Linked DNA regions of Homo sapiens. The protein of the gene in region 2 purifies or fractionates together with the protein of the main gene of each other region. This does not show direct contact. Each region holds a gene or a part of one and is shown on either strand. Other genes may lie near its edges. The genes, in order: TJP2 and SNAI3.

What was found.
Region 1: the proteins of SNAI3 (region 2) and TJP2 purify together in Homo sapiens (affinity purification with mass spectrometry; 3 studies listed by BioGRID and IntAct, with this or other methods). This does not show direct contact.

Annotation. Positions count from the first base shown.
Region 1 is NC_000009.12:69,232,833-69,241,196, reverse strand, and holds part of TJP2 (tight junction protein 2), read right to left. Parts: intron 6,759-8,364; coding exon 6,650-6,758; intron 5,170-6,649; coding exon 4,959-5,169; intron 4,249-4,958; coding exon 4,061-4,248; intron 3,320-4,060; coding exon 3,224-3,319; intron 2,488-3,223; coding exon 2,408-2,487; intron 1,261-2,407; coding exon 1,050-1,260; intron 1-1,049. UniProt on the Homo sapiens protein: Plays a role in tight junctions and adherens junctions. Acts as a positive regulator of RANKL-induced osteoclast differentiation, potentially via mediating downstream transcriptional activity.
Region 2 is NC_000016.10:88,682,824-88,691,351, forward strand, and holds the start of SNAI3 (zinc finger protein SNAI3), read right to left. Parts: upstream 3,685-8,528; 5' UTR 3,584-3,684; coding exon 3,508-3,583; intron 1-3,507. UniProt on the Homo sapiens protein: Seems to inhibit myoblast differentiation. Transcriptional repressor of E-box-dependent transactivation of downstream myogenic bHLHs genes. Binds preferentially to the canonical E-box sequences 5'-CAGGTG-3' and 5'-CACCTG-3'.

The DNA.
Region 1 (8,364 bases), on a different chromosome or scaffold from region 2:
TACTTTCATGAGTAATAGCAATGGCTCTTCATTTCATGGACTTAAAAATATATTCTATTAGGTAAATCTTTAAATATGTACAAAAGTACAGATAGCAGTTTAATGAACTCCGATGTACATATCAACCAGTTCAACAACTAACAACTACCAAGTCTTGGCCAGTCTTGTCCTGTCTATAATCCCATCTACTCCCCTCACTGCAGACTATTTAGGCAAATTCTCAACATTATATTAGGTCAACCATAAATATTTTATTTAGTATGCATTCCTCAAAGAACTTTGTTTTTAAAAAAATCACAATATTATTATCACACCTAACAAAGAGAAATAATAAATCTTTAAATCATCCAATATTCAGAGTGTCCAAGTTTCTAGATTTTTTTTTTTTTCTTTGAAGAGACAGGGTCTCACTCAGTCACCAGGCAGGAGTGCAGCAGTGCCATCACAGCTCACTGCAGCTTTGAATTCCTGGCTCAAGCGATCCTCCAACCTCAGCCATAGGCATGCACCACCATGCTAGGCCTTTTAGTAGAGACAGGATCTCACCATGTTGCTCAGGCTGGTCTCCAACCCCTGGGCTCAAGTGATCCTCCTGCCTTGGCCTCCCAAAGTGGGAGGATTACAAGTGTTATCCACCATGCTGGACAGGAATATTTTTAAATAATGAAACCAAGTTCCTTTCGCTTTGTAAGTTAATGCATGTATTGATGGTGAGTAGAGAACAATGACACAATCTCTAGAGAGACATAGGTGTTTGGCCTGGCTCAATCACTAGCCTTATAGTCTCACAGGAAAATATGAACTTCATCAAAATAGCTAATTATTACCACATCATGGATCTTTATGGTCATTTTCAAATAGACAAAATTACAAAGTTCAATATATAAATGCCATTGGCCTAATATCCCATTTTATAGGATTAACTATTTTTCAAGGAGTCATGAACACAATTTCAAATTCTCCATTCAGATTAATTAATTATTTCTTCTACTCTTCAATTCTTTATTTCTCATTTTTTAGCAAAGGGACTACATTTACATTTCACTTACCTGTAAAAAGGTGTGCACACGTTTTTTTAAGCTTGTTGGCTTGATCAAATAACTTTCGAGAACTTTTGTTGGACGTTGGATTTAACCTTTGTCTCATGGTTTTGACACCTTGTCTGGAGTCTGGGTTGAAAAAAATCACAATTGGGAACCACTGGGTGTAATTCAACAGGTCCACAGCTTTCGGAGTCACATCCAGTAGTGCATGCTTATCCTGTTTACAAAAGGGGAAAAGTTAGAGAAATGGATATATAAAGTAATATAGCATCAAATACTTTGTTTTAATAAGTAAAGGCTGTATGAGATATATCTTGTTTGTTTGTTTGTTTACTTATTTGGGATAGATTCTTGCTCTGTTGCCCAGGCTGGAGTGCAGTGGCACAAACTTGGCTCACTGCGACCTCCGCCTCCCGGGTTCAAGCAATTATCCTGTCTCAGCCTCCTGAGTAGCTGGGATTACAGGTGCCCGCCACCACCATGGCCAGCTAATTTTTGTATTTTTAGTAGAGACAGGGTTTCACCATGTTGGCCAGGCTGGTCCCAAACTCCTGACTTCAGGTGATCCGCCCGCCTCTGCCTCCCAAAGTGCTGGGATTACAGGCATGAGCCACCTATCTTGTAAATTTAAATCAAGAAGCAGAACACATTTCCTTCTACCTAATGCCCACTTCAATATTACCAATGTGTTAGAACTTCTGATAAAATGAATTAACACATTATTTGGTATAATGCTGGGAACTCTGGAAAAAAAAACAGTATGTTACTGCCAGAGAACAGTAACAGTGACTGGTTTCCACACAGTGAAATGGTTTGCATTTACATTATATATATATTTTTTTGAGATGGAGTTTCACTCTTGTCGCCCAGGCTGGAGTGCAATGGTGCAATCTCCGCTCACTGCCAACAGTGACTGGTTTCCACACAGTGAAACGGTTTGCATTTACATTATATATATATTTTTTTGAGATGGAGTTTCACTCGTCGCCCAGGCTGGAGTGCAATGGTGCAATCTCCGCTCACTGCAAACTCCGCCTCCTGAGTTCAAGCGATTCTCCTGCCTCAGCCTCCTGAGTGGCTGGGACTACAGGTACCTGCCACTGTGCCCGGCTAATTTTTTATATTTTTAGTAGAGACAGGGTTTCACCATGTTGGCCAGGCTGGTCTCGAACTCCTGACCTCAGGTGATCCACCCGCCTCAGCCTCTCAAAGTGTTGGGATTACAGGTGTAAGCCACTGTGCCCGGCCAATTTTTTATTATTAACATTTAATGATTAAAAGTACAGATACTATCCTAAAAGTGACTGCAGCAAACCATAATCTAATTCTTTCTGAAAACACGGTCTGTGGATGAATTTTCTCACCTGTTCAATAATTTGCCTCACGGTATTTAACCGGACCACTCCAGTGGATTTCTCAGATCCTGCATCTTTTGGTTCCGTTTCTGCAAAAGCAAAAACAGGAAGCTAAATAATTGTTTAGAAAACAGTGACAACCAAATACTCCCACCTAGCATCAAGCAATGATGGCACACCTGACATTAAGTGTCTCCTAACAAGATTCAGTGGGAAGGACCCACATAACCTGCTTAGTGGAAATCTAATCATGAAGAAACGGTTAGGCCAGTCCAACAGGAAGCATTCTAGGAGACAACTAGCTTGGATTCTTCAAAATATCAGTGTAACAAAGTTATTTAGAAAAAAGAGGGGACTGGAAAGACATAAAAATCACAAAAAGACATAAAAATCAAATGTCATGAATGGTCCTTGGTTGTATTCTGAATTTAAAAAAAAGCTATGAAGCACATAACTAGGACAATTAAGAAAACGTGGAAAATGGACTATATACAAAATCACACCACATCAATGTTACCTTTCTTGGCTGTGATAATGGTATTGCAGTTATGTGGGAGAAAGTCCTTGTTCTTAGGAGATTCACACAAGTATTCAGGGATAAAGTGTTATAAATGATTCTGCAGAAATTTTTCAAAGAGTATGTGTATGTGTGTGTGTATGTGTGTCTATGGTGCAGGCAGTGGGTGAGAGAAAATGCGTGACAAAATGTCAGCAACTGGTGATTCCAGGTGAAGGGTACGTGGGTGTTCATGATTCTTCCAACTCCTCTGTTAGAAATTTTTCAAAATAAAAATTTGGGGGAAAAAAAAACACTGACAGACTTACTAGCAGTTTGAAACCAGTCAGGTAACTCATTAGCCAATTTTTCCATTGCTATATCAGCTATGGGGCCGAATAAGACCACAGGTCTCTTGAAACCAGCTGAAATGACAAGAAAGGCCATTAAAGCATACACACTTGCCTAGCTGTTATGATAAGCAGTAAAAGTATTGTATGGGCTTTTGATAACATAACTAAACGAAAGAAACTGTGGTTTCTCCCCAATTCAGCTTGGCTCTGTTCTGAAGAATATGCCTTCACTATCCTCACCATTTAAAACAATTTTTTTCTTTTCATTCAACCACATGCTAACCTAGATTTTTTTTTAAGAGACAAGATCTCACTATGTTGCCCAGACTAAACTCAAACTCCTAGGCTCAAGCCTCCTGAGTAGCTGGGACTACACTGCCTAGCTCCTCACCATTTTTAAACACAAACTTTCCCATTGATAATATATGGAAACTTTTTTTATTTTTTGCAGAGATGAGGTCTTACTATATTGCCCAGGCTAGTCTTGAACTTCTGAGCTCAAGTGATCCTCCCACCTTGGCCTCCCAAAGTGCTACGATTATAGGCATAAGGTACAGTGCCCAGCCAATATACCGAAACTCTTGAACAGTGGTATTAAAACATTTTTTAAGTTGCAGAAATAAGCCTCAATTTAGGAACTGAAACAGCTTTTTATAAATCATGCTCCTTGTTAGAATTTGATTTCAACTCTATAAACTGCCTTTGGCATAACTGACATACATAAGTTAGAACTTGACCATACAGTCTGAAAATAAAGGTGAACAGGCTCAGAGCCCAGTCAGTTCATTTCCAGGCCCCATGTGACTTCCTCACCTTCTCGCAGCAAAACCCTCTCATAAGCTGGGAACTTGGTGCTGACAGACACAACAGCTGTGAGGTCTTCCCGACTTTTCCTCAGGTTCTTCTTCACCCCAGACCTCTGGCCACGCATTCTCCAGAAATCTGCCCGGTCCCCAGCGTTGTCTCTCTGGGCATTTTGAACACTGGCCATTTGTTCAGCTCTGAGAAGAAACCACGGGAAGTAAATCTCTAAAGCCAGAAAACGCAGCTAACATGCATTTCATTAATCAAATCCAGTCAATTTTACTTCTGAGCTCAGAGAAGATTCCGCTTGACAATGAAGAAGTTTCAGAGGGTGGGAAATGTGGGGACCTTCACTTCCAAATGGGAGCAGAAAAAGGCTGGGTCTCTGTGAAATCTCCCAGAAGTGGCTCAGCAATAAACATGTGAAATTTGGCCCATTCTGATATGCAGGTACACAGTACACACACCTGGAACTCCTGCTCAAATACAGGCCTCTTTTCTAGGTTCCTGCACTGTCAGCCAAACACCAAGTGTTCACTGGGGTGCATAAACCTCTCCAAGGATGGAGACTGGGCACCGGACAAGGGTACCTTGTCTCTAAGAGGTGTGCTGGTGTGCTACGGCCATTCAGTATATCTCTTGTATACGGTACAAGGCAGTGGATGCTCCTTAGGAAGTTGTTCAAACAGCCACATTCAGCAACCAACCACATGATGCTAAATTTACTCACAATAAACTGGCTGGTGGCTATTTACAGTTCAGGCCACTCTCCATAAACAAGAAATAGATGGTGACAAGTAATGAACTCATCATGTGGGGTTTCCTTTTACGGGGGAAGGGGGGCGGTCTCTAGTTTTCTGCAGGGGGAAGGATTAAAAGGGGTATGTGAGAATGCGATCTCTGTTACCTGCTCTTGTTGGGGATTAAGCCTTTCTCCAACTCGTTCCCAATCCTCACAGCCAGCCAGTTGCCCAGCTTGCCGTCATACAGTGTGTCTACCACTCGGAAGACCTCCCCTCTGGTGAAGGCCAGGCTCTGTGGAGTTTCCTTCTCACATTCAAAGTGGCTTCTTATAAAAAACGAATCCCCTCTGCCACAAGCCAGGATGTCTCTATACACTGAAAGACAAAAGCATCGTTTGTTGCATTCAGCTTAGTACAAGTTACAGTACTAGACACTCAACACAGCTTCTCCTATCTCTGATCTCCCCTTTACCTTCCTTCCATTCAGTGCACAAGTCCTATGGGAGTCACAGCTCCAACAGGAACAAGGACAAATAACCAGCTTCACGGCTTGCTGCAATGGTTAATTTTATTTCAACTTGACTGGGCCATGAAATAACCAGGTATTTGGTCAGACTTTATTCTATGCCTTTCTCTGAGGGTGTTTTTGAATGACAGTCACGTATAAATGGGTAGACTGAGCAAAGAAGATCGCCCTCCCCAATGCGAGTGGGCCTCATCCAATCAGTTGAGGGCCTGAAGAGAATGACAATCAGACCCCTTCTCAATTAAGAGGAAACTAGGCTGGGCGTGGTGGCTCATGCCTATAATCCCAGCACTTTGGGAGGCCAAGGTGGGTGGATCACAAGGTCAGGAGATCGAGACCATCCTGGCTAACACAGTGAAACCCCGTCTCTACTAAAAATACAAAAAATTAGCCGGGCGTGGTGGTGGGCGCCTGTAGTCCCAGCTACTCGGGAGGCTGAGGCAGGAGAATGGGGTGAACCTGGGAGGCAGAGCTTGCAGTGAGCCAAGATTGCTCCACTGCACTCCAGCCTCAGCGACAAAGCCAGACTCCGTCTCAAAAAAATAATAATAAATAAATAAATAAATAAATAAATAAATAAAAAATTAGGAGGAAACTACTCTTCCTGCCTGATGGCCTTCAAAAGGCGACATCAGCTCTTTTCCCTGACTTGGTACTGGAACTACACCATTGGCTCTCCTGGTTCTCAGGCCTTCAGACTGAGACTAGAACTAAATCACTGGCTCTCCTGAGTCTCTATCTTGCCCATTTTCACTGCAGATCTTGGCACTTGCCAGTCTCCATAATTATGTGAGCCAATTCTTTATAATAAATCTCTTTCTTTCCTATTGATTCCAATATCTCCTATCATTCTGTTTCTCTGGAGAACATTAACACAGTTGCCAATCAAGCTCTGAAGCAGACAAGGAGGACACTCTCAACACCCACTTAACAGATGGGAACAAGGCCTGGAAAGGTGAAACAACTTGTCAGACTGGACAGGGGTAACAGGCGCACCAGCCAGCAGCCATGGCCTTTGCACATGTCGTATGTAAACTCACTAATAACTCCAGGCAGAACATAAGGCTGCATCACTGTTCAGGAAGGCAGTTTTATTCCAAATTGACACAACTAGTAAAATTATTTCAGTGCATGCATAGAAAACATTTTTATGGAAAGTTAAACGGCACTCACATTTTCTTCACACACCTAGGGCCCAAGGACTAGGTGTTGAGATCCATCTCAATTTTTTAATACCCAGATTTGCCTATTCTGGTACCAAGACACCTCTCTCATCCTTCCCACTCCCCACCCCCACCCCAACTAAACTAAATGACCAAATTTGCTCACCATCGGCTCGGCTCTGAGCTAAAATGGTCACCATTTCACCTTTAGGGATTTCTAACAGGTAGAGAACGGCATCCTCCCGCACTAATCCTCTGAAATCCTGTGTGTTCACCTATTAGGAAGGAAAAACAGAAAAAGAAAAAAAAAAAAAAGAAAGAAAGAAAGAAAGAAAGAAAGAAAAAACAGAGAAGTTTATAGTAAGATGCCACTGACCCTTTTGTTTGTTTTCATCAGGGCCTGTCCAGAGCAAAGCCAAGATGCAAATGAGTCCTTAATGTCACTATTCAAGTCCTCGCGCCCAGCACCTTGCTATGGGCCTGCACACTATACCTTCCTGCCTCCCCATACTGCCAACCGCACCTTAGAGGTTAAGCCATTGAAGCAAGGATCTGTCACCAGATCACAATAGAATTTCTTGTGGTTGTTTCTATCCATCTCCCTTCTGTGAGTCTCTCACAGAGGTGGCCAAGAAGGTAATACACAAGTATGAAGCATGGGGAGTGTTGGGGTCTGTGACAACTGAGCATGCTGGCCCAGCATTTACACTAATTTTAAACTGGTTCAAATAAAAGTGTGCAAATAAAGACTCTGACCAATTCTACCCTTCTCCTATAGCTTCTATCACCTAAAAGTGTTTAACATGTGTTTATAAAATTGAAAGGTATGTATCAAATTAAAGAGCATCAGCCTTACAGTTACAAAGCAAGTAAAATTGAAATGTAGCACAAAGAACAAGACATTTTGAAATCATAGTGCTATGTGGTTTTTTTTTTTGAGATGTAGTCTCCCTCTGTCGCCCAGGCTGGAGTGCAATGGCGCGATCTTGGCTCACTGCAACCTCCGCCTCCTGGGTTCAAGCAATTCTTTTGCCTCAGCCTCCCTGAGTAGCTGCGACTACAGGCATGTGCCACCACACCCAGCTAATTTTTTTTGTATTTTCAGTAGAGACAAGGTTTCACCATGTTGGCCAGGCTGGTCTCGAACTCTTGACCTCAGGTGATCCGCCCACCTAGGCCTCCCAAAGTGCTGGGATTACATGCGTGAGCCACCACGCCTGGCCCATAGTTCTGTATCTTTCAGCCTATTTTAAAACAGAATTATAAATAAGTAAAATGCAAAAACCATATTAAAGTACCTGATATGTTAATAATATTTTGTAGAAATAAAGATATAAAATTCCTATGAAATATTTTCTTCAGTCATTGACAATTACAGAATCCTTTTAATCACAAGAGTAATGCTTTATTAAAGAAGAAACTTATCCTTAGTTGGGTGGGCCTTAATTAAGGCCAAAATTTATGATTAAGTGAAAGTCGGCATTAGACTAAAACTAATTTGGTGCTTTTAAAATAAAGTGATGTGCTAAAGCAATTGAGTTAATTTTTCCTTTGAAACAGTATTTAGTATTTAAGGTACTGTCATTTGTACCTCTCTGTCCCCCAATTAGGAATCATCCCATTTTGGTATCCTTTCTTGTGCCATTTGTTTATCTACATCTGTATCTACATATAGCCATATGTATATTTTCACATGTACTATACATGCTTGTATTTGTTTACTTAAATAAGACAGGGCCACAAGGCTGTGGGAGGACCTTGGGAGTCCTTCAGTCCATCTCTCTGGCCACAAGAGATTAACCTTAGATCAGTCTCGATCACAGTCTTCGATAGCCAAAAACTATAATGGTCAAAATTAAAGCACACATGGTAGTTATATTT
Region 2 (8,528 bases):
GAGTGCAGTGGCGTGATCTCGGTTCACTGTAACCTCCACCTCCTGGGTTCAAGCGATTCTCCTGCCTCAGCCTCCTGCGTAGCTGGGAGTACAGGCGCCTGCCACCACGCCCGGCTAATTTTTTTGTATTTTTTTTGTAGAGACAGGATTTCACTGTGTTAGCCAGAATGGTCTCGATCTCCTGACCTCGTGATCCACCCTCCTTGGCCTCCCAAAGTGCTGGGATCACAGGCGTGAGCCACCGCACCTGGCCCCCCACCCTTTTTTTTTTTTTTTTTTTGAGACAGAGTCTTGCTCTGTCTCCCAGGCTGGAGTGCAGTGGCGTGAAATCGGCTCACTGCAACCTGCAACCTCCACCTCCCAGGTCCAAATGATTTTCCTGCCTCAGACTCCCAAGTAGCTGGGACTACAGGTGTGCGCCACCATGCCTGGCTAATTTTTTTTTTCCCCCAGATGGAGTCTCGCTCTGTCACCCAGGCTGGAGTGCGATGGCACGATCTGGGCTCATTGCAACCTCTGCCTCCCTGGTTCAAGCAATTCTCCTGCCTCAGCCTCCCAAGTAGCTGGGATTACAGGCATGCGCCACCACGCCTGGCTTATTTTTGTATTCTTAGTAGAGACAGGGTTTTACCATGTTGGCCAGGCTGGTCTCGAACTCTTGACCTTGTGATCCGCCTGCATCAGCCTCCCAAAGTACTGGGATTACAGGCATAAGCCACTGCGCCTGGCCTTTTTTTTTTTTTTTTTTTTTGAGCTGGAGTCTCACTCTTGTCGCCCAGGCTGGAGTGCAATGGCGTGATCTCAGCTCACTGCAACCTCCGCCTCCCAGGTTCAAACAATTCTCCTGCCTCAGCCTCCTGATAGCTGGGATTACAGACACCTGCCACCATGCCCAGCTAATTTTTGTATGTTTAGTAGACGCGGGTTTTTGCCACATTGGCCAGACTCGTCTCAAACTCCTGGCCTCAAGGGATCTGCCCACCTCAGCCTCCCAAAGTGCTGGATTACAAGTGTGAGCCACTGCGCCCGGCCTGGGCAAGGGATCTGAATAACTATTTCTCCAAAGACGATACACAAATGGCCAATGAACACATGCAAAGATGCTCAATGCCATCAGGGAAGCCCAAATCGCAATCACAATGAGATGCTCACACCCAGTAGAACTGAAAAAAATTGACAATAACCAGTGCTGTGAGGATGAGGAGGAATAGGGGATTCAAAGGAACGCCTCCCATCTGCCACTCTCTCCTGACCTGACCTCCTCCCACCCTCAGTTTTCCTAATTACAGAGTCATCAGGTTTCTGTCCACCCAGAAGTGACGGCAATGACAGGCTAAGAGGCAGCGTCCAAGAGAGTTCTGGGGAGACAGCACTGGGGGAGCCCCAGGTTTCCCGGCTTTGCTGGGGCCTCTCTGCAGGAAAAAGTCACCATTTCTTTTTTCCATCTCTAAGACATGGCCACCTTTCTGCCTCCAGGTATTGTCACAGAGCCAGGACCCTGTTTGTGGGCCCAGTGGCTGAGCCCAGAGGCAGGACGGGGCAAGAGACAGTCTCGCCCCGTCAGGCTGACCATGTGTTTCTGCTGGGATTTTAAATGCTTTCCCCATACTCTCTGGGTTTTGCTTGCCTTTTTATTCATGCTGCGGTCCAGATCCTGGGGAGAAGACACTGTTTTGTTTTGTTTTGTTTTGAGACAGAGTCTCGCTCTGTCGCCCAGGTTGGAGTGCAGGGGCGCGATCGTGGCTCACTGCAACCTCCATCTCCCGGGTTCAAGTGATTCTCCTACCTCAGCCTCCTGAGTATCTGGGATTATAGGCACCCGCCAGCACACCGGGGTAACTTCTGTATTTTTAGTAGGGACGGGGTTTCGCCATGTTGGCTGGTTTCGAACTCCTGACCTCAAGTGATCTGCCGTCCTCGACCTCCCAAAGTGCTGAGATTACAGGCATGAGCCGCCACACCCAGCTGAAGAGACTGTTTAAGTACCTTGCTGGCTTCAGGGGTTCCCTGGGGAGCCATAGGAGCCATTTATTTAAAAGGAGAGATTGAGGGGCCCCAAATCCCAGCACCTCAGGTCTATCCTGGGGTAACATCTTGGCAGAAAGTTGCCAGGGCCCCCTGGCTGTCAGAAAGCCAGGCAGCTGGGGCTACAGTGAGGAGGGGAGCGGGGGCGGGGAGCAGAGAGCACTGCGGGGCAGCACGGCTACTCACGACAGTTGCCCACTGGGCCCAGCACAGCTACCCAGATTTGCACACTGGGATGGACCCTAAGCAACACTTTGAAACTTGCAACTATTACCCATGTAAATTCCGCACACATGTGTAGTCACATGCGCATCCACATACACATAACAGAAGCCAGTGTCCTTCACCATGAGCCAGGCACTCCGGCAGTTTCTGCTCTATTTTATTTTACAAAATTGCTGGGGGTGACTGATGAAACTGATTTCAAAATGCACATTTGAAAAGCATGGTCCTAGCTGGCACCCCCTGGTGGCAGCCCGGGCCTCGGGTGTGGGTCCAGGTGGGATCCCCCCCATCCCCAACTCTGGGTTCTGAGCTGGGATAAAGGCCTCTTGGCGGTGTTGCTGGGGGCCACAGCCCCAACAGCGCCCTTCCTGCTCTCCCCCACCGGCCACAGAGCGTGAGTCCCGACCACCGCGTCCGCCGGCGCCCCTCAGTGGGCCTTTGTCCCAAGAAGCTGCCAAGCCAGGTGGGGACTGCTCTCACCGCCCGTGTGGCAGGCTGTCCTCTGAAGGACAGAGTCCTCTTCTCTCGTGTCCCTAAGCCTAGCAGGCAGTGGGAATGAACGGGCAGCCCGGTTGCTGGGCACCCATCTCCCCAGCCTAGCCGGTGTGTGGAGGATTGCAGCCCTTTAGCCCAGCCTGCCCAGGCAAGCCTGCCGGGGTGAGCAGGAGGGCTTCTGGGGTGAAGGGAGGTGGGGGAGGGAGGGAGACCACGGGCGGAGGCTCACCTGAACTGAATGCAGGAGGGGCAGTGCCTTTGCACCAGAAAGAGCCCATGTGTCCTTCTCACCATCCCCTGTGCTTACACCCCCAGTCAGCATGCTCCGGGGGTCCCTGAGCCGGGCCGCCCCAGACGGCCCTCCTTCCCTCCCACCCACCACCCCGCGACCCCTCCCAAACGTGTGCGCCAGGAAGATGACTCCAGGGTGCCTTTAGCTGGGGCTGTAGTGGTTGGGACGGGCGGCTGTATATCAGGGGTGAGTTCCAGGGAGACTTGGGGGCTTAGAAAACTTAGAAAACTTCTCCAAGTTGGGAGAGAATCCCGCCCGCCCTGCCGGAGGCGGGGCTCAGTGCCCTGAAGTGGAGGCGCCCGTGGGCCACCTCCCTCCCTGCAGCCGCAGCCGCTGCGCAGAGGCGCTGGCTCCTTCTCCTCCCACCTGGGACAGGTGTCTCCCCAGCCCCCGCTCCCAGGGGCCTCTCTCTCTCTCCCGCCCCTCAGGGTCGAGTCCCGGCAGGGGCTCGGGGATCGGGTAGTCAGTACCTCTCTGCGTCTCCAGCCGCCGGTAGTTGGGGACCCTGTGGCTGGAGTGCGTTTTCACCAGGAAGGAGCGCGGCATGTTCCCCTCCCGGGCGGCAGGCCGGGGTGGGCTGGGGCGGGAGGGGCGCGCCTGGGTCCGGACTGCTGCGTCCGCCGGCGCTTGAAGGGGTCAGGCTCATTAGCATAGCGCGCCGCCTCCGCCAACCAGCGCCCGGCGCGAGTGGGGCGGGGCCACGGGGGCGGAACTGAGGGCGAGGCGGGGTCTCGGGCAACACGCCCAGGACAGGTGCGCGGGCGGGACGGGGCGGGGAGCGCGTGGCCGCCGGTGTCCTCCCCACGGGAATTCTCTGGCGTGCGCGCCGCCGAGTCACACACCGACCCGTCGGGCCTGGCCACCCACTCGCCGTGAGTGAAGGGCAGAGTTCAAAGCTGTGTGGAAACCGAGCGAGAATCTCTTCCACAGAATGTGGAAGCGTCGGCCGAGCGCGGTCCTTGGAGAACCCTTGCTGCGGAGAATGACGCTCACTCTGCGGCCTGGCCTCGCCTCCCCATCCCTTCTGCAAACTCACAGGACAGGATTGATGGGGAGAGCCCAGGCGAAACGAAGCTGACCCTAGTGACCAGCCCTACTGGCGGCTCTGGAACAGGCCCGGGACCGGTGGCCTGGAGACAGTGGTCCTTTCTGGATGGGCTGCAGTCTCCGAAGGCTTCCCCCACTGGAGTCAGCCCTTTAGGAGTTTGTCCAGTGCCTCCAGAAAGCTGTTTTTTGGGGGACGGAGGACTTGGCCTGGAATTCTGGAATTCCCAGGGGGTCAGACATGGTTATGGGAAGTTTAATAAAACCGGTGAATCACGTGAATTCTGCAACAGCTGCACGTGTGACCTGGGCAATCCGTTTCCCTCCTTTGTGGTCCTGTAGAGCCCTCAGGGTCATAAAAAGCTGGGAGCCGCTGTGTCCAGTGTCTGGGTCTCTTTTGACATGGACATTTCATAACGTTGGGGGCCAGGTGGGGCCGTCTCTGGGCTGGCGTGCACACAGGGTGTCCCTGGCTGTGCCGCCGGCCTGCCTCCCCAGCAGGGCTTCCACCTCAGAGCTGGGTGGCCTTTGCCCCCTGTGGGCCGGGGGTGGAGAAGGTGGGGGGTGGTGAGTCCATGGAAGCTCTGAGGGACAGACAGCAGGGAGGAGGGCCGTGCCACACCAGCATCCCACGTCCCACATCACACGTCCAGGGTGTGAAAAGCTGGGCTAGTATCAGCCCCACTTTGCCAATGAAAAAAAACTAGGCTGTGAGTCTGGGCTCAGCAGCTCACGCCTGTAATCCCAGCACTGTGGGAGGCTGAGACAAGAGGACTGCTTGAGCCCAGGAGTTTGAGACCAGCCTGAAAAACAACATGAGACCCCGTCTCTACAAAAAAAAAAAAAAAAATTATTTTAATTAGCCAGGCGTGGCAACACCCATCTTCAGTCCCAGCTACTCAGGACGCTGAGGAGGGAGGATTGCTTGTTGCAGTAGCCTCCAGGAGGTGGAGGCTGCTGTGAGCTATGATGACCCCACTGCACTCCAGTCTGGACAACAGAGCAAGACCCTGTCTCAAAAAATTAAAAAAAAACAAAAAAGAAGACCAAGGCTGTGAGAGGTTAGGACACAGTGGGATTGGGACCCAGCCACACTCCAGCTTGTCTGCCACTTGGTGAGGGGGAGTGGAAGGACAGGTGGAGGTGCCCCTGGAAGAAGGTGCCCGCCTCTCCTGCAAGCATGGCCTGGCACCACCACGCCGGGAGTGTAGATTTCAGAGGACACATGCCTGCCTTCTGCTTATTCACCTGTTCCTCGCCTGGAAAGGTTTCTATTTATAGCCTCCCTTCCTTCTCTCTCTCCCTCGCAGACACAGATAACGCTTGCAGATACCTGAGCCAAGCCTCCACCCACACCGTCCCTCCCCGCCCACCTACCCGTTGTGTGGCCACCCGCCAAGCCCCAGCAAGCTTATCTCCTAATCCCAGCTAGAGCCTGGTGTTACTCAGGGCTGCTGTAGCCCTCCCGAGGAGAATGGCTGATCTCATCCCGGGAACGCCCTAGAGGGCCTGCGAGCACCTTTGGGGTGGGGTCCCAGGGCTGCCGCAACAACTTGCCCCCCAGGGACACTCAAGTCGGCTGCAGACTCACTCTTCAGCTGTGATGCACAGGGCGGTGTCCAGGCTGGACCCAAGAAGGCCCCACAGAGGGAAACATCAGCGTCCCCCTTCCCACAGGTGCAGCCTCGGGGGTGGGGATTGGGGGAGGGCGGCCGTCTCCATCCTTTCCGTGTCTTCCGTTCCTCACTGCCGGCAGCTTGGCTCTGGGGGTTAAACTGACGTGCCCCTGAGTGGGGAAACCCACGGCCCACAGCCTGCTAGACCCGCCCTCCTGAACTGCAGCAGGCGACCCAGGTCCTTGCCCCCTTCCCTGGACATCTAGGACATCAGGATGATGACTTGTGCTGGGCCCGGCAGCCTGGCCCCTCCCATCTGCCTCCATCCGACACCCAAGAGCGGTTTTCCAGTGGGTAGCCCACCCCAAGAATTGCCGGTCAGGGCAAAAACGGTTAGAGTTCCATTTATGTTGACATTTTCATCCTTCCTACACGTATGTCTTCCTGCCTTTCTGGTTTTACAGTGACTGTAACCATAGTGTCTGGAGATGTGCACACAGGTATCCAACACGGTAGACATCTCTGTCACCATTGACTGTTGTTTGTTTTAAGATGGAGTCTCACTCCAACCTCCGCCTCCCAGGTTCAAGCAATTCTCCTGCCTCAGCCTCCCAAGTAGCTGGGATTACACGTGTGCACCACCATGCCAGGCTAATTTTTGTATTTTTACTAGAGACTGGGTTTCACCATGTTGGCTAGGCTAGTCTTGAACTCCTGATCTCAAGTGATCCTCCTGCCTTGGCCTCCCAAAGTGCTGGGATTACAGGCGGGAGCCACTGCTCGTTTTTTACTCATAGGGCTTTATGACCCAAACCTTGGAAACCCTCACTCCGAATTAGAACACAGTCCTTGAGAGCTAGACCAGGAGGGGCTCAGCCCTTGCTACCTGCACAATGCCCGCCTGTGGTCAGGTGCATGCTGGGGGTTCAGCAGGGCTTGTTGAACTGGATGGAAGAGAAGCAGGAGCTTGCAGACAGTGTGGCCTTTCTAGAGGCCCTGCCCCATGCTCTGGGGGCACGTAGGCCCTGTCTGTCTCGAGTGGAGACACTCAGGTGAAGACCCAGGCCCTCAAAGGAGAGTCTGGCAGCTGGGCCTTGCTTGTCCTTGGACTCAGAGAGATGGCCCCTCTTGTAGGAGCAAAGGCAGTTCATCGAGGCAGACATCCCATGCGGAGGCAGACATCGAGGGACAATCCCATGCGGCCCAAGGTCATGGGCCCATGGAAACTTGAACCCAGTGCTTGAAATCTCAACATCCAGCCAGACCGGGCGCCACTGTGTGCTTGGTCCCCCTCCGTGAAGGGGAACTCACTACTGTTTATGGCTGCCCACACCACCGTCTGAGGGCCGGATTGTCAGAGGGAGGGTGGTTTTTTGTTTTTTTGTTTTTTTTTTTGTTTTTAAGACGGAGTCTCACTCTGTCACCCAGACTGGAGTGCAGTGGCGTGATCTTTGCTCACCGTAACCTCCACCTCCTGGGTTCAAGTGATTCTCCTGCCTCAGCCTCCCAAGTAGCTCGGATTACAGGCATGTGCCACCATGCCTGGCTAATTTTTGTATTTTTAGTAGAGACAAGATTTCACCATGTTGGCCAGGCTGGTCTCCAACTCCTGACTTCAGGTGATCCACCTGCCTTGGCCTCCCAAAGTGCTGGGATTACAGGCGTGAGCCACCGCACCTGGCCAGGAAGGGTGGTTCTTAAGCTGGGGTTCAGTGGACACATCCTGTGTGATATGGGGGTTCTGAGAGGCAGACAGGGTTGTTTTCAGAGCCCCCAGCGAAAGTGGCTTTCAGTGCCAGTGCCAGGTGGCTGGCAGCCCTGTGCTCTTGGGAGATGAAGGGGATGGACATGGTATTTGCCGTGTGCCTTTCCCGGGATGTGTCGTTTGCCTGGCAGATGGCCTAATGCCTAGTTGTCTGACCTGCAACCATGAGTCCCCCCAGGAAACTTGCTCACACTGGCAGACGCCCCGTGGCTCCTGTCTGATTCACGTCCAGGTTATGCCTGCCTGACCATCGCTCTGGTGTTGGGAGCCTGCCCTCTGTCCCCCACGTCCCCGAGAAAACCCAGCCTGGGCAGCCCCTGGTTCTTCCTTGTGGAAGGTGCAAATTCAGTCCCCACTGCAGTAGGAAACATGTTCAAAGACTTACTACTCACAGGTCCTGGGCAGGGAGGGCGCCAGGAGTGGGAAGGGCCATCCTCCGTCCCCAGATCCCACAGGGCAGAAGTGAAGAGTCAGGCAGAGAGAAGACAGTGTGTGGTAACGGGCCGTATGCACAGGGAATGGGGAGTGGTCACTGCAGGTTCACAAGCAAATGCCTGAATGGTCTGATTAAAGGAAGTGCAGGGAGTGCGGGCAGCCCAGGCTCCTGGGTGGGAGATACGCCCCTAAGTGCTCATCTCTGGCCCCTGACATGGGCGGTTGAGCGTGGTGTCCTCCTGGTGCCCAGGCTGCAGGCTTGGCTGTGCTGCCCGTTAGAACAGTCCCTACCCACACCAACCGTAAGACACATGAAACTGCACAATGCCTCAGCACAGGCAAGGGAGAGTGACCGGTGCTGAGGGGAGCCCTTGGGCCTGCGGCAGATGAGGTGAGACTTGAGCCATCAAGCAGCGAGGCAGCGTGCGTGTGAGTCTGCAGGCCACAGGCGTGTTCGTGCGTGTGTCCATGGGCGTATGCGTGTGGGAAGTCGCAGTAGCTGCTCTGAGGTGACATGGAGGCTGGGCATCAGCGGGTAAGTCCCGGGCACCAGGAGAGGGATCTGTGGGGTCCCCGGCATCGTCCTGCCGAGTTGGATACCTGAGCTCGGTTCCAGCAACACCATCCGCTC